6 separate regions of the Homo sapiens genome follow, and all the other regions are reported to be linked to region 5. The links are microRNA targets in miRTarBase. Many come from high-throughput screens and were not tested one by one. Region 5 holds a microRNA gene; each other region holds the end of a gene's coding sequence.
What was found. Region 5 holds the annotated microRNA hsa-miR-548ay-5p (AAAAGUAAUUGUGGUUUUUGC, at 1,702-1,722, opposite strand). A microRNA usually pairs through its seed, bases 2 to 8, with sites in the 3' UTR of a target mRNA and lowers its output. Matches are read on the target gene's strand: a 7mer-m8 pairs with bases 2 to 8, a 7mer-A1 pairs with bases 2 to 7 and ends in A, and an 8mer does both.

Region 1: miRTarBase lists NACC2 as a target of hsa-miR-548ay-5p. Seed matches in the 3' UTR shown: 7mer-A1 at 1,400-1,406.
Region 2: the mRNA of FRY is a reported target of hsa-miR-548ay-5p. Seed matches in the 3' UTR shown: 7mer-m8 at 1,584-1,590 and 7mer-A1 at 2,856-2,862.
Region 3: the mRNA of XKR9 is a reported target of hsa-miR-548ay-5p. Seed matches in the 3' UTR shown: 7mer-A1 at 2,008-2,014 and 7mer-A1 at 1,844-1,850.
Region 4: miRTarBase lists KLRC3 as a target of hsa-miR-548ay-5p. Seed matches in the 3' UTR shown: 7mer-m8 at 742-748.
Region 6: the mRNA of UBE2H is a reported target of hsa-miR-548ay-5p. Seed matches in the 3' UTR shown: 8mer at 2,371-2,378.

Annotation. Positions count from the first base shown.
Region 1 is chr9:136,008,730-136,012,269 of GRCh38, reverse strand. NACC2 (NACC family member 2) reads left to right here. Exons shown (of 6, transcript NM_144653.5): 6 at 246-3,540. The coding sequence ends at 754. Among named protein-coding and RNA genes, the nearest start is that of UBAC1, 49 kb to the right of the region's middle.
Region 2 is chr13:32,294,799-32,298,338 of GRCh38, forward strand. FRY (FRY microtubule binding protein) reads left to right here. Exons shown (of 61, transcript NM_023037.3): 61 at 404-3,540. The coding sequence ends at 662. Among named protein-coding and RNA genes, the nearest start is that of ZAR1L, 19 kb to the right of the region's middle.
Region 3 is chr8:70,733,790-70,737,329 of GRCh38, reverse strand. XKR9 (XK related 9) reads right to left here. Exons shown (of 5, transcript NM_001011720.2): 5 at 1,388-3,534. The coding sequence ends at 2,906. Among named protein-coding and RNA genes, the nearest start is that of XKR9, 66 kb to the right of the region's middle.
Region 4 is chr12:10,409,623-10,413,162 of GRCh38, reverse strand. It overlaps KLRC3 (killer cell lectin like receptor C3), which reads left to right. Exons shown (of 7, transcript NM_002261.3): 7 at 547-848. The coding sequence ends at 591. It overlaps KLRC4-KLRK1 (KLRC4-KLRK1 readthrough), which reads left to right and starts at 3,017. Exons shown (of 13, transcript NM_001199805.1): 1 at 3,017-3,064. KLRC4 (killer cell lectin like receptor C4) reads left to right here and starts at 3,406. Exons shown (of 4, transcript NM_013431.2): 1 at 3,406-3,540.
Region 5 is chr3:32,504,641-32,508,180 of GRCh38, forward strand. MIR548AY (microRNA 548ay) reads right to left here and starts at 1,749; the gene lies at 1,643-1,749. It also overlaps the pseudogene RPL31P18.
Region 6 is chr7:129,831,983-129,835,522 of GRCh38, reverse strand. UBE2H (ubiquitin conjugating enzyme E2 H) reads left to right here. Exons shown (of 7, transcript NM_003344.4): 7 at 462-3,540. The coding sequence ends at 586. Among named protein-coding and RNA genes, the nearest start is that of MIR183, 59 kb to the right of the region's middle. RefSeq lists an enhancer at 203-862.

The sequences.
Region 1 (3,540 bases), not on the chromosome of region 5:
AGGCTGCTGGGCCTGACCAGGCCAGAGACTGTTCCAGAGGAATGGGGTGGGGAGGCCTCCCAGGCCGAGCAGTGAGAAACGTGACCTCTGGTCTTCTGGCTGAGGCCAGGAGAGCCCCAGGTGGTCACATGGGCCCCAGGAGCGGCCGGGGAGGCTCATCCAGGGCATCATGGTTCTGTGGCCTTGGGGAGGGGCGGGCCTCCCGGCAGGCAGGTGGCTGAGCTCACGCCGCCCCGTCCTCACAGTGTACTGTCAGAACTTCGCCCCCAGCTTCAAGGAGAGCGAGATGAACGTGATCGCCGCGGACATGTGCACCAACGCCCGCCGCGTTCGCAAGCGCTGGCTGCCCAAGATCAAGTCCATGCTGCCGGAGGGCGTGGAGATGTACCGCACGGTCATGGGCTCCGCCGCCGCCAGCGTGCCCCTCGACCCCGAGTTCCCGCCTGCCGCGGCACAGGTGTTCGAGCAACGCATCTACGCCGAGCGGCGGGGCGACGCCGCCACCATCGTGGCTCTGAGAACTGACGCCGTGAATGTTGACCTGAGTGCCGCCGCCAACCCCGCCTTCGACGCCGGCGAGGAGGTGGACGGGGCTGGCTCGGTCATCCAGGAGGTGGCCGCCCCCGAGCCGCTGCCCGCCGATGGCCAGAGCCCCCCACAGCCCTTTGAGCAGGGCGGGGGCGGCCCCAGCAGGCCCCAGACGCCGGCGGCCGCGGCCCGGAGGCCGGAGGGCACCTATGCAGGGACCTTGTAAGCGGAGCTGGGTGGCTGCGCGAGGGACCGAGTACTAGAGCTGCTTGCATGCGTTACTAATACAAACAAATGTGATCAAGCCACTTACCTACTGAACTGCTACTGTTGCCTGAGAAAAATGTGATTTTTATTCTGCTTGTATTTAAAATTGATGAAGGAAACAAATGCATTCATTATACTGTAAACAATTAGGCCACTGGCAGCCTCCTGCGAGGAAGTTCCCAGGGCTCCCTTTTGATATTCACAAGGTCAGCCTCCAAGTGTAGCTTCCCTCCCCCTTCTTGGGGAGGGTGGGAGGCCGCCAGGCCCCTGGTGCCCAGCCCTGCCCCTTCCTCCCTGCCCTTCCTGCTCCTCCTGCCCGGAAGACGAAGCAGGGGCCGGCGGTGGTCTGTGGCGAGGGGGCTGGGCTGTGCGTCACTGACCCTTCCTTCCTTCCCCATGGAACCTCTCTGGGGCGACGGGGCAGGGCTCAGGCTCCAGGGCCTAACTCCTCGTTTTTCCTTCTTTCGGAGACTCGGGGCCAGGCCCACCGGGCCTTCCACCTGTGTGGGGTGTGTGCACGAGTGTGTGTGTGTGCGTGTGTGTGCAGGGGTGTGGTGAGGGGGCAGTGATGGCTGTGGCCCACCCCTCGGGGTGGAGAAAAGGGTACTTTACTCTGCCCCCACACCCTGTCCTTGTTCTGCCCGATCCGTCTCGGCTCTGCAGCCCCTCGGTCCCCTGACCCCCAGGGCACCGCTGACCCCGCCTGGCCTCCCACTGTCCCGCCCGGGCCCACTGTGGGACGTGCACAGCTGATGTAGCACACGCTGCCCTCTGCCGCCTCAGCCACTTTGGGATTATGCTTGTCTTGTTTTTTTTAGGTTTTGTTGTAATTTAGATCTATTTCATATATGGTTTGGAAACTTTCAGACTCAATAGAACAAAAACTTTGGGTGGGATGGGTGTCCCTGTCCCCAGCCCACCATGGCTTGGGGTGGGTCATCTGTGGCCGTTAGGGTGCGTCCCCCTGCTCCCCCGCCCAGGGCCAGGGACCACTCGTCTCCCACTGGGGGAAAAAGGGGGTCCCGGGTGGGCGACTAGTACGTGTGAAGCTGAGCTCAGGGCCGGACCTGGGGAGCGGGGGACTCCGCTCGGGCAGGAGGCAGCGGCCAGGGCTGGGCCAGGGCGAGAGTCGGTCCTCCCGGTGCTGGGCTCCCCGTCTGCCTTGAGGGGTGTGCATGGATGGAGGGTGCCTGAGGCTGCAGGCAGGGGATGACCGGGACAGGCCTGGGCTGGGGCAGTTGGAGGTATGGGCACTGGTAGGGGACAGAGGGTTAGGGATCATGTTGGGGGGCCAGGGACAGTGGAGGAAGGGCCCATGGAAGATGGGGCTGTTTGGTTTGAGGCTGGAGTGCTTCCTTTGAAATTTAATTACTGTTTTTTAAGTGGTAGGGCTCACAGACTGTGTGAAGTCCTGTGTGAAGTGCTGGTGTGGCCACCTACCCAGGTGTCCCTCCCTTTTGTTTTGGAGGCCTGTGTCCTTGTCCAGGGGCAGCCCTCCTTCCCAGGTGTGGCCAGAAGAACCCCCCATCCCAAGACTTGAAATGTCTGTTGCTCACCTCTGTCCCTCCAGAACTCGGCTTCCCCATCTTCACTTGCAAAACAAGTGCAGCCCTGCGCCCATCAGCACCCCCTCCGGTGTGCACACAGGCCAGTGAGCGGTGGCCGACCAGCGCACCCCACTCCCCCAACCTCCACAACCCATCAAGCGGAGGCCGCCTCCGCTAGGGGAGGACCATGTGCTGCACCCTGGCCTGGGGACCTACAGGGTGTGGGTTAGACGCATTCCCACTGGGCGGCTCCTTTCTGCCCCGAAGCCCACCCCTGTGGCGAGGCCCTAGGAGACCTCCCGTGGGGCCGCCTCTACAGACAGCACTCAGCCTCCTGGGCTGCCTCCAGCCAGGCCCAGCACATGCCTGCCCTCCAGAAAAATACGTTGCTTTCCAGAAGGAGGTGGGGGACCATGGGCAGGCACTGTGGACGCTAACCTCGGCCCCTCCACCCATTCCTCAGGGCCCACGTCCAGGGGGACCAAGACCTGCATTCCTAGGGCTGCAGGTGGCTCAGTGGTGCAGAGGCATCCAGACCTTCTGCTGAACTAAGAACCACCCAGCCTAGAGGGAGCCTTTCTCTGCCTCTTCCTCCCCTGTCTTGGGCACAGGTGGGGTTGGAGCCCCCATGGGGCCCGCTGGGAACCTGGACCAAGCCTTCCTCGGAGATGGGAGGAAGCCGCGGGGTGGAGCAGGGGCAGGTAGGTGAGGTTGAGCTGCACTTGAGTTCCCTCTGGAGTTTCCTTCATCTGCCCCACACCCAAATTTGCACTTTAATTTGACCATCCCTGGGGGCCTGGCTGCTGACAGAAGGGCTCTCTCTGCCCTCCACTCCAAAGTGGGTGCCCCCCCACCCTTGGCCAGGACAGGGAGGGAGCCGCTGGCTGCTGCCGGAGGTGGTGGCTGCACAGAGGACGCCTGACTGCTGTTCAGGCCCGCACAATGTCCCGTGCCCCTTCCTCACTCGTTTGTAATCGCCGTCTGTTTTGTTCTGGGTAAGGAAGGCAAGAGCTATAGATAAAACTTAAATAATAATAATTTAATGTGAATGGGTTCTGAGCTCTCCCTGCGCCCCGGGCGGGCCAGGCCGAGCATTTTGCACTAATGTGTCCCACGGTGGGCGTGAGTCGGGAGTGTCTGTGGACGTGCGTGGCTGCTGAGCGGACCTGCTGTGTGCTCCCTCCACGTCCTGAATGTA
Region 2 (3,540 bases), not on the chromosome of region 5:
CACTTCAAAATATACCTTTATATAATTTTTAACTAACATTTGAATATATTCTTTTTGGTTTTGCCCCTACATTCTGATATTGTATTCACATTCATTGAAACCAGAAGGCTATAGCAAATAAGGTAAATGTTTTAGGAGTGTCAGATTCCATTCTGATATTTTTATACTTTTGATATTTTACCAAAATAATATTCTAAAATTGATTATGGTGATGTTTGCACAACTCTGAAGATACTAAAACCCACTGAATTGTTTACCTTAGATGAGTGAATTACCTGATACAGGAATTCCATCTCAATAAAGCCTTTTTAAAAAGTAATACTCTTATATTAATGAAGACTCATAAGCTCCCAACTTTGTGACTAATAGTGCCTCTAATCTGTGCTGTTCTTTTTGACTGCAGAAGTCTGTGGCCCAATGACATCTTTGGAAGCAGTTCTGATGATGAGGTCCAGACACTACTGAATATTTATTTCCGTCACCAAACTCTGGGACAGACGGGTACTTATGCCCTGGTGGGGTCTAACCAGAGCCTGACCGAGATCTGCACCAAGCTGATGGAGCTGAACATGGAGATCCGGGACATGATCCGCAGGGCCCAGAGTTACCGAGTCCTCACTACTTTTCTTCCAGACTCCAGTGTTTCTGGCACTAGTCTCTGACAGGAGCCTCCTGTCCCCACTGGGTTCCAAACTGGCAGTGCTGCCATGCTGGGGCAACGTCATTCAGTGTCTTCTCGGCCTTCAAAAGGCTTGGACAGACTGTTCTCCCTCTTGTTACCTGTAGGGCTTTTTCTAAAGAGGATGGCAGAACTTCCAACGTGTAGCAATACTATAAGAACCAAGGTAGCTTAGAACGTCCTGGACAGACTCCACTCATCATGCTGTGTGGCACAAATGTGTTACATTTGACCGAGCATATGCAACTCGCTACTGAAGAAGTGACTTCCGTTGCATACCAAAGCCGACTACACTGAACAGTACCTTCCTTTCTAGAAACAATTTTAGATTGGCAAAAGTGCAATGTTTTCTTCACTCAAAAAATTTTATATTCTCAAACATGTATATTCTTTCCCTGTCTTGTTCCATTTTCTTTTCTTTTTTCTTTTTTCTTTTTCCTTTCTTTCGTGGGCTGAGAAAGGGGCAGGCAAAATGAAGCTGGCCACTGAAAACTGTAAGATGGTCAAAAGCTGACAGCCTGTGTATGTGAAAAGGGAATTGTAAATGGACTGCAATGTAATGTACACTGTAATTTGAATACAATTACTGTATCTAAAAGGAGCTGCTATGAAGTACCTTTCTTATGTTGCTAGGCTACTGTTTCTGAAAGCCCTGGATCTCTTTGCACCAAAAATGGTCCAGATAGACTCTTTTTAAGGATCTTGGCTGCTTTTTACTAGAAGGTTGCTTTTATGAGCATATTTATACTGCTGAAGGATGAGTGTTAATTTTAATTAACTTTGCCGTTTTGTAGAGAAAACTATTCACAAGATAAATTCCAAGTCTTTTCACCTGTCAGGCATGCATATTTTAATATCTGTTTGGATAGTCAGAAGTAGAATCATAAAGGTAAAATATGAGTTGTTACTTTGTTTCTTCGATGTCATATTTTATGTGTAATATATATGTAAAGGGCCATTCTTAAGTTCTCTCCTTAAACTTAATGCTGTCAAGTGTTAGATGTGTGCATGTGAACTTGTTGCACTGCAGAAACATATTCAGAGTTTATCTATGTAACTTATTCACTCTGTAAATACATTTAAAGTTTTTGTGATGTAAGCTTAATTGATATTCTGTTCAGAACTTTCTTTAGACTAAAAAAAAAAAAAAAGACAAAATACACGTTGACCATGGACTTTATTTCTGGTTAATGAAAATGTTTGTCCTGGGCACACATGAAGTTTTGCATGTGGGTTGCCAAAGTAATAACCCCAAGGGGCACCCCTCGCATGTATGATCTGAATGGCACCCGTGGGGGTCATGCCATGCATGGCCCTGTGAAGCTGGAGGTAAGTATTATCTCTTTGGAAGTTGGCATCAAAACTGTGAGCTTCAACCAATTCTCTGTAATCAACCAAAGAGAAAAATCAGAAAAAAGTGAGAGCTCTAATTCTCCATAACCTATAATTAGGTTGTCATCCTTCAAATTTGGAAGTTAATTCTATAGTGAGCAGGAAAAAGTAGTAGAGTTGTAATTCTGTCACCAACACCTATCCCCCAGGAACACAGGGAGAAACATGTAACAATCTCATTTATGCCGTCTTTCTACTCATATTTTACATGGACCAACAAATATAGCTTGCTTTACTAGCATATGGCTACTGAATCATTGGCAGTAATATTCTAGGAGTATTCTATAGAAGAGAGCCTAACCTAGGATTTTTTTTAAATCCTAGTAGTTGCTACAGATGCAACTACTAGATTTTAATAATTTTCTGGACTGCTGAAAACATATTTTTCTGATGATTTATTTTTTTCAACTTGCCTGAAAGATGATTTGCTATGATTTGTAGAAACAACTGAATCATGATCTCTCTGAAAAATATCATAAAATAAAGGTTTCTGTGGCTAACCACAGTAGACAACTTTCAGAGAGTTTTGTTGGGAGCCACAGTAGAAAGAACAGATTCGTCATGAACTGAGTTTTCTACCATGGCTTCTTACCCAGCAGAGAACCACCGTGATGGTTTACTCTTAAAAAGGGAAGGAAAAAAAAAAAGGATTTCAACAGTACATTACAATCCAAGATATTAACATAGGAAGCAGTGGTCTGTGTTTTTCTCAATTTTATTTTTAAAAGGAGATGTATTAATGTGAAAGGTTTCTTCTACTTTTCCTCTATCTCTTCACCTCCTCTACTTTAAGTGGAGATGGGAAAAATTGTGTAGGATGCAGCCCCACGCCAGCAGAGCCCAGCAATAACTTTAGATCTACCAGTCAAATCTTGTCGGCTATTGCTCTGTGCCTCTGTTACAGAAGCATTAATGTTAATTGCCTTCCCCAGGGATACAAAGAAGTAGAAGTACCAAAGGAAAGGGTAGATATTTAACAGATGCCTCAGTGATAAGAAAGATGCCTCCTTGTGTCTCACTGTTTTCTAGCACTGAAACATGATACACTTTGTATCCACCTGCAGAATAAAGCAATCCAGACAGGCGCTCTGTAACTTAGACATCACTTGATTAAAATTATAGTCTCCAAATATAGTGTTTTAGAAAAGGCACTGCACATTTTTAGAGGCACGTGAATGTCATTCCCACCTCTAACCCATCTAACATCGGTGAGATGTTAAGAAAATGTGCCGATGTTACTGTGAAATAAAGATGCCTGTAATTAATTGTAGGCATCACACACATGCGTGAACATCCAGAGTTAGGTCTCAAGGCTCTTCTGGTTCTAAGTCCTAACAAACAATGATCTTTTCAGTGAACTGTAGAATTCTGGAAAGAATAAGCGTACCTCCAGGCTGCTTACATCAATAGCTTACACGTGCTTCCTGATGCCTGCCTTAACAACAAAAAATTCGTGTCCATAGGTGAGT
Region 3 (3,540 bases), not on the chromosome of region 5:
TCTCAGGATACAAAATCAATGTACAAAAATCACAAGCATTCTTATACACCAATAACAGACAAACAGAGAGCCAAATCATGAGTGAACTCCCATTCACAATTGCTTCAAAGAGAATAAAATACTTAGGAATCCAACTTACAAGGGATGTGAAGGACCTCTTCAAGGAGAACTACAAACCACTGCTCAGTGAAATAAAAGAGGATACAAACAAATGGAAGAACATTCCATGCTCATGGATAGGAAGAATCAATATCATGAAAATGGCCATACTGCCGAAGGTAATTTATAGATTCAATGTCATCCCCATAAAGCTACCAATGACTTTCTTCACAGAATTGGAAAAAACTACTTTAAAGTTCATATGGAACCAAAAAAGAGCCCGCATCGCCGAGTCAATCCTAAGCCAAAAGAACAAAGCTGGAGGCATCACGCTACCTGACTTCAAACTATACTACAAGGCTACAGTAACCAAAACAGCATGGTACTGGTACCAAAACAGAGATATAGATCAATGGAACAGAACAGAGCCCTCAGAAATAACGCCGCATATCTACAACTATCTGATCTTTGACAAACCTGACAAAAACAAGCAATGGGGAAAGGATTCCCTATTTAATAAATGGTGCTGGGAAAACTGGCTAGCCATATGTAGAAAGCTGAAACTGGATCCCTTCCTTACACCTTATACAAAAGTTAATTCAAGATGGATTAAAGACTTAAATGTTAGACCTAAAACCATAAAATCCCTAGAAGAAAACCTAGGCATTACCATTCAGGACATAGGCATGGGCACAGAATTCATGTCTAAAACACCAAAAGCAATGGCAACAAAAGCCAAAATTGACAAATGGGATCTAATTAAAATAAAGAGCTTCTGCACAGCAAAAGAAATTACCATCAGAGTGAACAGGCAACCTACAAAATGGGAGAAAATGTTCGCAACCTACTCATCTGACAAAGGGCTAATATCCAGAATCTACAATGAACTCAAACAAATTTACAAGAAAAAACAAACAACCCCATCAAAAAGTGGGCGAAGGACATGAACAGACACTTCTCAAAAGAAGACATTTATTTATGCAACCAAAAAACACATGAAAAAATGCTCACCATCACTGGCCATCAGAGAAATGCAAATCAAAACCACAATGAGATACCATCTCACACCAGTTAGAATGGCAATCATTAAAAAGTCAGGAAACAACAGGTGCTGGAGAGGATGTGGAGAAATAGGAACACTTTTACACTGTTGCTGGGACTGTAAACTCGTTCAACTATTGTGGAAGTCAGTGTGGTGATTCCTCAGGGATCTAGAACTAGAAATACCATTTGACCCAGCCATCCCATTACTGGGTATATACCCAAAGGATTATAAATCATGCTGCTATAAAGACACATGCACACGTATGTTTATTGCAGCACTATTCACAATAGCAAAGACTTGGAACCAACCCAAATGTCCAACAACAATAGACTGGATTAAGAAAATGTGGCACATATACACCATGGAATACTATGCAGCCATAAAAAATGATGAGTTCATGTCCTTTGTAGGGACATGGATGAAGCTGGAAATCATCATTCTCAGTAAACTATCGCAAGAACAAAAAACCAAACACTGCATATTCTCACTCATAGGTGGGAACTGAACAATGAGAACACATGGACACAGGAAGGGGATCATCACACTCTGGGGACTGTTGTGGGGTGGGGGGAGGGGGGAGGGATAGCTTTAGGAGATATACCTAATGATAAATGACGAGTTAATGGGTGCAGCACACCAGCATGGCACATGTATACATATGTAACTAACCTGCACATTGTGCACATGTACCCTAAACCTTAAAGTATAATAATAATAATAATAATATAAAATTAAAAAATTAAAAATAAATAAATAAACAAAGTCCCCACCACTTCCAAATGCCATCAACATACAAATTTGGAGATTAAGTTTCACACACATGAAATCTGGGGGGCACATTCAAACCATGGCAACAAGGTATCTAAAGTATTCAAACTCATAGAAACAAAAAATTATAATTTCAGTTGAGAGAGACTTGGGGAAGGAGGAAATGGGGATTTGTTCAATAAATAGAGAATCTTAGTTTTACAAGGTGAAAAAGTCCTTGAGATCTGTTGCACAAGGTGAATACAGTTAACACTGATGAACTGTACACTCAAAGTGATTAAGATGGTAAATTTTATATGTTTTTACCATAATTTTTTAAAAATAAAAATAATTTTAAAATATGATTTAGATACAACTATTCTAGCACAAATAGGATTAATATAATTATATGTTAAGAGTGCATTAATTCAGAAAAGCTAGGAAATAAGTAAATAATGAAATGTCAGACCTCTCAGATGCACACCAATTCTCTTTTGCACTTACTGAATTGGAGATTTCATGGATGAAAGCACAGCAGATGCTAAAAATTTGTTTTCTGCTTTCCCTTCTTTCCCTTTTCCTCTACTCAACCTGTCCCCAACTGCAAATATATGCACTGAAGACAATAAAGGAAAAAATAATACAGTGTTCTGCTTTTCTCTTCCCTTTGCAGTCCTCCATAACAGGTACAGTAGTATTAGTTCAGGAACAAGGAAAATGGGAGGGAAGCTCAATTCCAGCCTTCTCATTATGAAAACCAGACCATTTCTTATATTTCAGGCTCAAGATGGCAGCTCTACCAGGCAGTAGAAAGATATCTGAGTACTCAAGATCTTCAAAACCAAATGAGAAATTAATTTTAAAAATAAAATACTACTATGTATCTCCTATTTCACTGAACTAATTTCAAATTAAAGGTGGCAAAAATAAGAGACAACACACCCACATAACACACATTTTCTTTACTAACCAATGAAACAAAATATAAGAAAATATATATCATAAATGAATAGCTTATTCCATTAGGAAATATCTCATTCTACATTCTCTTAGAACTGGTTTTCCATCAATTTCATCACATTTTGTTTCTGCACTTCTGTTTGGGTGAAAACTCCCATAATAAACAATAAGAAAAAGAATTCCAAGAAGAAGAGTAAGAACTATAGTTATACTGATAGGTATAAAATAGTCTGGATTAAAAATAGTGAGGGGGCAAACCCAGAATACAGTCAATATCCCCAAAGTGCCCAGTACCCTAACAATATAATAACAAGACATTGGACACTTGGTATTCTGTCCCTTAATATTAAAAAATGTAAAGATAAGAATGAATCCAACAACAATCCTATATAAGAATTCCATACTTATACAAGTACAAAACTGGGTGTTGTTTTTAAATGCCCATATTATACCTAACAACCAAAGAAATAACAACAGAAATAAAGCAATCTTAACATTTAAGAATAGTAGAAGTACAACACTCAGCATCCACGATAATAATGTAAACAACTTGTAAAAGAGATATGTGATTTTGGGACATAATCCATTAAGAAGCTTTTTGTCAGGCAAGGATTTTCTTAAAGCTACTTGATAATCAACAGTTGACCAAGAAATAGCACAGCAAGAGACCATGATGGCCGCATCTACAA
Region 4 (3,540 bases), not on the chromosome of region 5:
TTCTTCATCCCTTTATAAATGTGGCTCATGTGGTGAGGTACTGGTTTTAAATGTTATTTATTTTTATTAATTAATGTTAAATTTGAATAGCTACATTTCAACTGTCTCCTAGCCAAGCTTGGCTAGCGGTACTACATTGAAATTGAGTATCCGTGTGAGTATATGTGTGTGAATGCATTCATATGAGTGATGGTTACTTGTCTAGTTTAAATCTTTCTATAGGCTCACTGGCCTGTCTTGTATTAAGCATCAAGAGAAGAGTCTTTAAAAATCCCATTTATGATTGTTTACTTGTTCACTTTATTCAACTATATGTTGAACTTGTATCATTAGGTATATGCAATGATAAAAAATATATTACTAATGGTTTGGAAAATTAATTTATCATTATGAAGTATATTTCCCCAATTTCAGTAAATTTCATCTCGGCTCACTGCAGCCTCGACCTCACCTCCAAGGCTCAAGCGATCCTCCCACCTCAGCAACCAGAGTAGCTGGCTACAGGCCAATACCATCATGCTGGCTAATTTTCGTATTTTTTTGTAGAGACGGGGTTTCATCATGTTGACCAGGCTGGTCTTGAACTCCTGAGCTCAAGAAATCAACACATCTTGGCCTCCCAAGTTGCTGGGATTACTGACACAAGCCACCGCCCCTGAGTGCTCATGTACCATTTAGCTTGTGTTTTAAAAATCTACTTTTTCTGCCCTCCCTATTTTTAACTAGATGATGTTTTAAAAATTACTTTTCCCTCTCTATATAGTTTGATTTAAGCATTAGTCATTTACAACAAATATTAATATTAAAATGCAGACCGTTATGATTGGAAAATAAATCAATGAACAATATAATGAGTGGTTTTTATATATTTCAATCTCTGGCGTGGTGATATAGTACAATATTTTTTAATTATTTATTCTTCCCAGAGACATATATTTCAATGAGAGTTATCTGATTAATTTATTTTTAAAAAACTGAATGAGAGAATTTTAAGAACTATCAAGAAAGTAAGTTGGGAATTTAACTTTGAGAATTGATGTCAATTACAATGAAGTGGAAATGTATTTTCTCAGAATAATTAGTGACAAATACATTAAATTCCTATTGGTAAGATTATTATTTTAAAAATTTATCGTCATATTAGCAGTGATATTATAGGGGTATATGATAAAGAAGTACGTAATCCCAAGTTTTAGCCACCCTGTGTAAATGTAGAAGTTAAACATGTAAGAGACTCTGAAAAAGGTATAAGATTTTAGTGTTTGTGATTGAGATGGAAACAACTGCATGGGTAGTAGTCTTTGTTCTCCCCAAATCTTGTTTACTATAAAAATAATTTCTAAAAGTCACTTGAAAATGGACAAACTAAATGACACCCTAGCAGCTCAGTCTCTTATATTCTGAGGTGTATGATGAGATAAACTGATTCAAAATGGCCCTAGTGTGAAAACTTCCTGTTCAAATCCGAAGTGATACATTGATGAGGAATCTGCTTTTTGCACTCTTGCCTCACTCTGAGCTTTCACAGGGCAGTCTGTGAAGATCAGAGATATCTGTTTTTTGTTTTTTGTTTTTTTCTGAGACAGAGTCTCGCTCTGTCGCCCAGGCTGGAGTGCAGTGGCTCCCGATCTCAGCTCACTGCAAGCTACGCCTCCCGGGTTCAACCGTTCTCCTGCCTCAGCCTCCCAAGCAGCTACAGGCGCCCGCCACCACACCCGGCTAAGTTTTTGTATTTTTAGTAGAGACGGGGTTTCACCGGATCACAGATGTCTTTTGTGTCGTTAAGAGGTAACCTGACCTCTCCACTAAGGGGCGTGTGACTTTCTGATGACAGAAGGTATGTGTTGCTAGTCTCCTGTTTCTCTACTAGCTCATCTCCTTTAGTAGAAAATTGTAAATATTAAATGTGATGCAACAAGGTAAAGTTAATACAGAATAAAATCAAAGTAGAACTGTCTGTACATGAATAATTCAGGGTGAAAAGCAACCCAAAATATAATATATGTTTGAGGATTTCTTAAAGTATTTACATTATTGCCTGTGGAGAATTAGTCAAGCACATGCATACATCATAATAGGTTTGTTAATCAATATAATTTAGAGTGAAACCGATAAATATCACGACAATGAAGAATTAATTTGAAATTTTATAATCATTATAGATGTAATAATACTTTATATTTAGCCCAGACTTTAAAAATGCATTTTTAATGGATACATCAAATTGTGAATGTCAAACATAATTTCTCATACACATACTTATATTTAATTGAAGCAGATTTTATTTTTTTAAGAATGTAATAATGAAGTAGTTTCCATAAAATGCAAATCTAAACTTAATTATAAATAATAGGACGACCTAAAAAAAATTGAGCCAAACAAACATTGCAAAAAAGATGTACTACACTGACATGAGACTCCTACCTCATTAGTTATTTTACACACTCAGTATGAATTAGAAATAATAAAATGGCAATTGTGTTAAAAATAATTAAAATATCTAATATGTATTGAGGACTAATGTGTGCCAGGTTGTATGTTAAGGGTTTTATATACATTATACTTCATAAATTATTTTCCCCAATCTAGATTAGTAAACTGGTGTTGTAGACACCAAGTAACTTTGTAAAGGTCATGCATTATGAGTTTCAAAGCTGTAATTAATTTTAGGTCTCACTGGCTACAGAGCTCATTGACTAGATTATTAAATTATATTTTCTGATTTATTACAATTACTTACACAACCAAAGTGACCCTCGCTGCCTTTTAAAACAACCACAGGGTCTTTCTGAAAGTTTGAACTTAAAGTGTTCTTTCATAGATGGTCCAAACTTATATTTATCATTTTCAGTTTTCCTATTTTAGTCATTAAATCAATTACCAATCAATTCTGTAAAATAAAGAGTTAAATCTTTTTCAGTAGTATTTAGTTTATGCATAAGTTAATGTAATGTTTTACAAGGTATAAAATATTTCTTTAAAATTTTAACAATTTTTCTGTTTTCCTCAATCATTCAGAATAAAAAACATTTGCCAAGACCTCATGCCCTTTTAGTAAACGAATGTAAGTCACTAACTTAATGTATTTTAGTATTAAAAGTTGTTCTATATGCCAACAAATTATTCCTCCATCTTTAGCGCTCAATCCTTACATTAATGAATTTTAAAATTGTCATACAATTAGTGCATTTTATTTTCAAATTTCAATTTTAGTTTTTTACACAGGTATTCTATTGGTGATAAAATATTTCTGTAGAATCTGATTTTAAATTAATAAAGATATTTATATTCAGTTACTTCTTAGTTTTCACAAATGTATTGTTTTTTATTGTTCCCATTAATAATATTATGTCAAATATAGAAGGCCTTTTAAAAAGTGACCTATTGTTTAAAGAGATTTCAGTTTAAAACTTTAGGAAATTAGTACCAGACTTTTATATTGGTCAACAGCAAAATGAACATTACTACTCAGCCTCCAACACATGCAGTTTGCCTATACCAGGGATCCTGTCAAAATATACACCACTTATAGCTTCTTAA
Region 5 (3,540 bases):
ACCCGGGAGGTGGAGGTGGCAGTGAGCTGAGATCGCGCTACGGCACTCCGGTCTGGGCAACAGAGTGAGACTCCGTCTCAAAAAAAAAAAAAAGCAGGCCGGTCGCGGTAGCTCACGCCTGTAATCCCAACACTCTGGGAGGCCGAGGGGGACGGATCACGAGGTCAGGAAATCAAGACCATCCTGGCTAACACGGTGAAACTCCATCTCTACTAAAAATACAAAAAATTAGCCGGGCGTGGTGGCGGGCGCCTGTAGTCCCAGCTACTCGGGAGGCTGAGGCAGGAGAATGGCGTGAACCTGGGAGGCGGAGCTTGCAGTGAGCCGAGATCACACCATTGCACTCCAGCCTGGGCGACAGACCGAGACTCCGTCTCAAAAAAAAAAATCATTGTTAAAAAAACAACAACAACAAGGATCTCTAATAAAGCAACTGCAGTAACATATTAATGGTAATATTTAGGTGAAGTATACGGGTGTCCACTGTACAATTATTTCAGCATTTCTGTATGTTTGAACATTTTCAAAATAAAGTATTGGGAGGAAGTTACAAAGAAACAAGGATACTTTGAGACAAGAGAGAAGATGAACAGACTTCGTCAACCCTCTTGGTTTGTTTAGGGCACACTTATGCAATTCTCTAGGGGTCTCTGCTTCTCTTTGCATTTTTAGAAGAAGACACAAATTTAGCCTGTGATTCATAAACTCCAACATGGCGAAGAATCATCTGTGAGATTAATTAAAAAGGAAGATTCTTGGAGATCTAGCCCCAAAGATTCTGAATGTAGATGGGGCTTGGGAATATACTTTCGTAACAAGCTCTTCATGTGAATCTGGGAAGAAATCCATCCACATAGAGAAACACTGTTTTATAATGTGATAAAAGTGAAAGCCATTGTGTAGTAGACAGTAGACGTGCCATATTTTCTTTGCTCTGATTGATTTGGGGGTGCCTGGGATTTAGAGACTAATATTTCACCCAGGTAAAGAAATGGGCATCCCTTACATTTTCTTCATAAATTGAAAGACCAAATAAAAATGTTAGTGCTTCATGAGCAAATACTTGTATAGGAAACTCTTTTGATGGGCATATTCACACAGAAAACTGTCACCCTCATTAATGAATAAAACAACTTGCAATAGTCAAATGGTGGGACTCACTATGTTGAAATGAGAAATCTTACGTATGGTGAAAAAAATACGACAAAAAGAAGAAAGGAAGATACACTAAATTTAGGTTTTAAAGAATATTCACTGTTCTCCTTTAAAATTAGATATTTAATTTTTTAAAAAAAGAAAGAAAAACATTCACAAGAAGAGAGAGCGATTGGGGAACATAATTTGATGGGACTTCAGCCATTCAAAAAATAATGTGGTAGTGTTGGAGGCTGTTGCAAGACCTTGGTTCTTGTCTTCTTAGTTTAAAAGAATTTAAACAAGAGACATACAGCAAAAGAGATGCAGCATAATTTATTGCAAAAGAAAAAAAAATTTTGAAAGCTAAGTACAAAATAGACATCACACCCTGAGAGAGAGAGAGAATTCAGGGCAGGCTGCTCGTAAGGATGAGACAACATTGATTATTGCTGGAGGTTATTGCTAATCATGTATTATTTGCATGATTATTCATAAGGAGGTGGGAAGAAGTGTTACCGTTAGGTTCGTGCAAGAGTAATCGCGGTTTTGGCCATTACTTTAAATGCAAAAACCACAATTACTTTTGCACCAACCTAGTAGTAAGCATCTTCTGGTTGGTCCTCTGGCTGCACATGTGCAGTAGCTGTGCACCCATGTTCCTCCCTCAGGTGTCCCATTAGCATTGTAAATCTCCACCCAAGGGCATGTTTTTTGCTATTATAATGAGCAAAAGGTCAGTTTGAGGACAGGTAAAATCAAAGTGCTCATGCTCTCTATAGAAGAAATTTCCTACTGAAGATAGCTTTGCTCGACTGAGTTCAATCACAATTCAAATGCTGAGGCTTATTGTGTTGACTGTTGGGGTCACCATGGTTGCTGCGTCCTGAGGATATGGGCACTTCCTTGACTGCCTATCCTGCCTCAGTACTACTTTTTCAGTTCAGAGTTTAATTTTTTTCAGCAGTTCCTGCTAAACAATTTTTCACTGGCCCTCTTATCGGTATTAGCACAGTTAGGCAATACTGTGGATACAAAGTTAGATTATAGACGCTATCCTACAATGATACCACAGTAATGTCCACAAAGAACTATGTTACAAAATAGAAAGAGATATGTGTTATAGAAGAGATACAAATTAAATATGTTGCTAATTCGGAGCAGAGAGAAATAACTTTCAGTTTAAAGGATCACTACAGTGGAGCTTCAAGATGGGGTTAAACTATACTTCGGTTTGGACATGCAGATACAGGGCAGAAAGTATTCAGGCAGTAGGGTGGTATGAAGGAAGGCAAAGAAAGTGTGCATAGGCACAGTGAATGAAGGGAGCAGGAAAGGACAGAGTAGTTAAGGAATATAAGCTCGAGATCAAATTTTGGAAGGCTTTGAAAATCAAGCTAAGGAACTGGGCCTTTCCATTATTGTTGGGTAATGAAGAACCCCCAACGAGTTTTAGGAAGGGGAGTGAAATGATCGGAGCTTTTCCTTGGGGATATTTTTCTAGTAGCCTTGAGCGCAGTGGTTACAGAGATCCAAGTAAGGGCTATTGTAAAAGTTCAGGAGAGAGGGAATAGAAGCTTAAACTCTGACGTTAATCATGGGGATGGCACCAAGAGAACCTTGGAGGTAAAACCAGTGAGATTTGAGGACTGATTTGTTTAGAGAGTAAGAAAGGAACTGGAGCAGGTGCCAATATTTCAAGTCTGGGTAACAAGGAGATTGAGGGAGAATAATAACAGAGAGGTAATATAGGAGGCAGTAACTCTTATTGATGTCAAAGTACAAATTTCAAAAAATTAAAAAGATAACTTTCATACAAGCATATAGTAAGCCTGCTTCAAAGATTTATCTAATTTATTAATAGGCTGGGCTCATGCCTGTAATCCAGGCAGGAGGATTCCTTGTGTCCAGGAGTTCGAGACCAGACTAGACCCCATCTCTAAAAAAAAAAAAAGAAAGAAAGAAAAAAAAATTAGCTGAGTGTGGAGGCATATGCCTGTAGTCCCAGCTACTTGGGAGGTTGAGGTAGAAGGATCGCTTGAGCCCGGGAAGTTGAGGCTACAGTGAGCCTTGATTGTGCCATTGTGCCACTGCACTTCAGCCCAGGTGACAGAGTGAGACCTTGTCTTAAAAAAATAAAATAAAATAAAATATTGCCTTTCCAACTTGGACCCAACAGAATGGCTTCCGCAAAGAAGGGTGGCCAAAAGAAAAAGGGCCGTTCTGCTATCAACGAGGTGGTGACCCAAGAATACACCATCAACATTCACAAGCGCACCCATGGAGTGCGCTTCAAGAAGTGTGCCCCTTGGGCACTCAAAGAGATTCGGAAATTTGCCATGAAGGAGATGGTAGCTCCAGACATGTGCGTTGCTACCAGGCTCAACAAAGCTGTCTGGGCCAAAG
Region 6 (3,540 bases), not on the chromosome of region 5:
GACTAAAATCGATTCCTAAAATAATAGACCTGGACTGACCGTAATTATGTAACTGCAGATCTAAAAATGATGAAGGATTTCCTTATAAATTACTATGGAATCATGACTGGTCCTATACTATCTGGGAGATGAAAGTAAAAAGAAAGCGTGGGGCTCCCATTTCCCTGGTCCCTGAAGAGTTCTTGGGGTGCTGCAGCACACACATTCCCCTGCAAGCTGAGCCTGCTGTGTTGCTCTTCCCAATACCCCTTTCCTCAGGGGGCAAAATGCAGAAACCCTGTCCCAAAGAAGTCTCCCTATGGGATTCTCCTTAGCTGTAGTGATCATGATTACTGTCATCTTTGTCCCCCCTGGTGTTCAAGGTAAGTTTGAACCTCCGCAGCCTTGCCAGCTTTTTGGGGTCGCCAAAGCACATGCCTGCCCACTCACTGCCCTTGTTGTCTTTCTCCCACCCCGTGCAGAGTACATCCAGAAATACGCCACGGAGGAGGCGCTGAAAGAACAGGAAGAGGGTACCGGGGACAGCTCATCGGAGAGCTCTATGTCTGACTTTTCCGAAGATGAGGCCCAGGATATGGAGTTGTAGTAGAAAAAGCACCTGCTTTTCAGAAAGACTATTATTTCCTAACCATGAGAAGCAGACTATAATATTCATATTTAAACAAAGCAATTTTTTTTATTACTAAACAAGGTTTTTATGAATAATAGCATTGATATATATATATTATATATCACCCTTTAGATCTTGATTTCTTGGTCATTTCTCAACCTGAGGTGCATAGCATATTCCCACATTCCATTTGGTAGCAATATGCGGTCTGAATGCATGCATTCATGAGTCCATGTGGCCAAGTCAGCCTGTGTGCTACTGAACTGTCGAAGGAAATAGCCGCTCTGATAGGTAGATGTGAGTAAAAAGAACAGGAAAAAATTGCTTCTTTTATTGGTTTCCAAAGAAACAAACCAAACCAACCAGCTCTTGGATGTGAAGATAAAATAGTGCTTTTTTGAAATGGAGAGGAAAAACTTGGGGAGGAAGAGGCCTGCTGTGGGGGCATCGGAGCCAGCCATGTAAGAATCAGAGCTGCTCCTTCCTGTGAATCCTAGGTGGCCCTATGTCTTCTGTGGAGTTACAGTATAAAGCAGGGAGCTAATTAAGAGTATTAAAACTTAAAACCATTTTTTGACTCTGATTTTAAGTACATTTTTATATGTCAGTTGCTGCCCTTCACACTACCAGGCCCTGCAGCCACAGTGTTCTGTTGGAGAAACTTGGGGAAGTGTTTTCTGAACCAGTTCTTTTTCTTGGGGTAGAGCGTGAAATCCAGACCTGTTTTTGAAAGGACAGCACAGGAGGAGAAAAGTGACTGGGACGATGCTTCCTCTCATCCAAAACACATGCAGAGTCACATCCTCATCCTAGTGTTTGGCAGTTTGAGACCGCTACCCTGAACTTAAGAGCTTTAAATATGAGGGTTGTGTTTCTGGGGGGGTTATTTTTTTGGTGTGTGTGTGTGTGTATTGTGCTTAGAAAGGTTGCAGATTTCATCTTCACCTACCAAGAGGCGGCCGCCTCCTTGGACAAGCCGCTCATGGACCATTAGACTTGAGAAGACGACCCACGTGGTGACTGCAAAGCCCTGGGTACTTGCCTTCATGTTCTGGTTTGGTTTTCCCTTTTTCTGCTGCTCTTGGCAGCAGCCTGGTCATCATCTGCTTGTGGGAGTGGGAAATGGGTATTTTAGACCCAACACAGGTTCTAAATTTAAAACAAATAATAATTGGAACAAATAAAGGTTCTTGTACCCAGAGTGATTCTACATGGGAAAAACAAACCAGCTTTTTTCAGAGAGTGACCGAATAGGAAGAAGGGATTCAGAAATATGATGTAGTAGAACATGCCCTGCAGGAAGAAAATGTTTTCTCTCCTGCGTATGTTAAGAGGAAATCAGTTTAAAATGCCTGCTAATCAAATGTCGACTCAGCTAACCATATGTCCAGGTTGCTGCAGAGTTTCTTTCAAATCTGAGTGTTGCCTGCTGAACTCGGAGGGGAGTTTGGAGAAATTTTAGACAGCAGCTCTGTGTTCTTTTTTTGCCGCAGCCAATAAGATAATAGCAGAATTAGCCAATCCTAAAACCTTCTAAAGACGATTTTTGAGCATCCCACTGGGATTATTTAATTTTTCTTTTTGACGTGTGTTTTTAGTTTAGAAGTGCTGTATTCCACAAGGTTTAAGTCAGTGAGGTTGGAAGATACCCTATCTTTTTTATTCAAAAAGCACAATCAATCTTTTGTTTGAAAATCTATATAAAGTACAACTTGCTTTTAGCATGATTATTTTCCTAAATAAAAAGACAAAGAATTTACTTACTTTATGTTAATTACGGGCATGAAGCAAAAGGTTTTCTTTAAAAAAAAAAAAAAGTGCAGTGATGTAGGGCTGTGGTTAGTTAACCGTACTGAGTTATCCATCTAGCATCTGTGGCTTGCTGGAAGGGTAGTATTAACTATTTAACATGTAATGGTGTACTTCACTCTTACCTAGCACGCTGTCTTCTCATTGCTTTGGGGGAGGGAGGGTCTCTCTGCTGGCACTGTCTAACTTGCTTACCTGCTGACTTTGCAGTTTGCTTGTGCTATGACATTTATTGTAGGTGCTATTTAGGGTAGGCTTAAAGTGCTGGGTGGTGATTTGAGTTCAAACAATAAAAAATTGTATTTTTTCAATATTGTATAAACAATAGTGTTCTAATTACCTTAAAAAAAAATAATGACCAGTTAAGAATTGCTTTTGATCTTGTCAAAAAACTGAATAGACCCCAGTTTCGGGAAGGTGTGTGAGCAGTGCCATGACTCTGCCCCTTACCTAATCCCACATCTCTCTAATGATAAGACATTGGCTCGCCTCTGACCAGAGCCCCAGCACCAGAGAGCGGAAGATGCAGAATTGTCAAATGACCTGCTGGGGGAGGTTGTAGGAGTTTAGCAGATTTGAGTGTGGCTGCAGAGAGAGAGAGTGTGTGTATGTGTGCACATGTGTGAGAGTGTGAGCGAGAGTGTGTGTGTGTCCATCTAAGTGTGTGTGATGAAGGTGGGATAAGGCTCCTCTGTTAGTGCTGGAAGCTCCTGTAATTGCCGCATGGATCCCACTGTGCCCTCTTGTTCTGTGCAAGTCTGTCCTGTCTGGGCACTAACCTTGGTCCCATGCATGTTTATGTTCTGGGTGGGGCTTTGCCTCTCCACTGGGAAACTGACTTTTGCTGGGTTGAACAGAGTCCCTTATGCTTTTTGTCCTCTCCCTGCGCCTGGGAGAGGTGGGAGTAGGAGCCCAAACACACAGGTACAGAAAGATCTGGAAGAAGGCCTGGCAGTGAATCCAAGGACTCTGGGCCCCCAACAATAGATGGTAGCGTAAGTCTGGAGCAGCGGTGTTTCACCACCAAATGCCTTTCCAGGCTGCCCTTCCAACACTCAGGAGAGCATCCAGATCCCTGGGCAGAGGCTCTACATTCTTGGCTTTAGAGGTGGTGGCAGCGG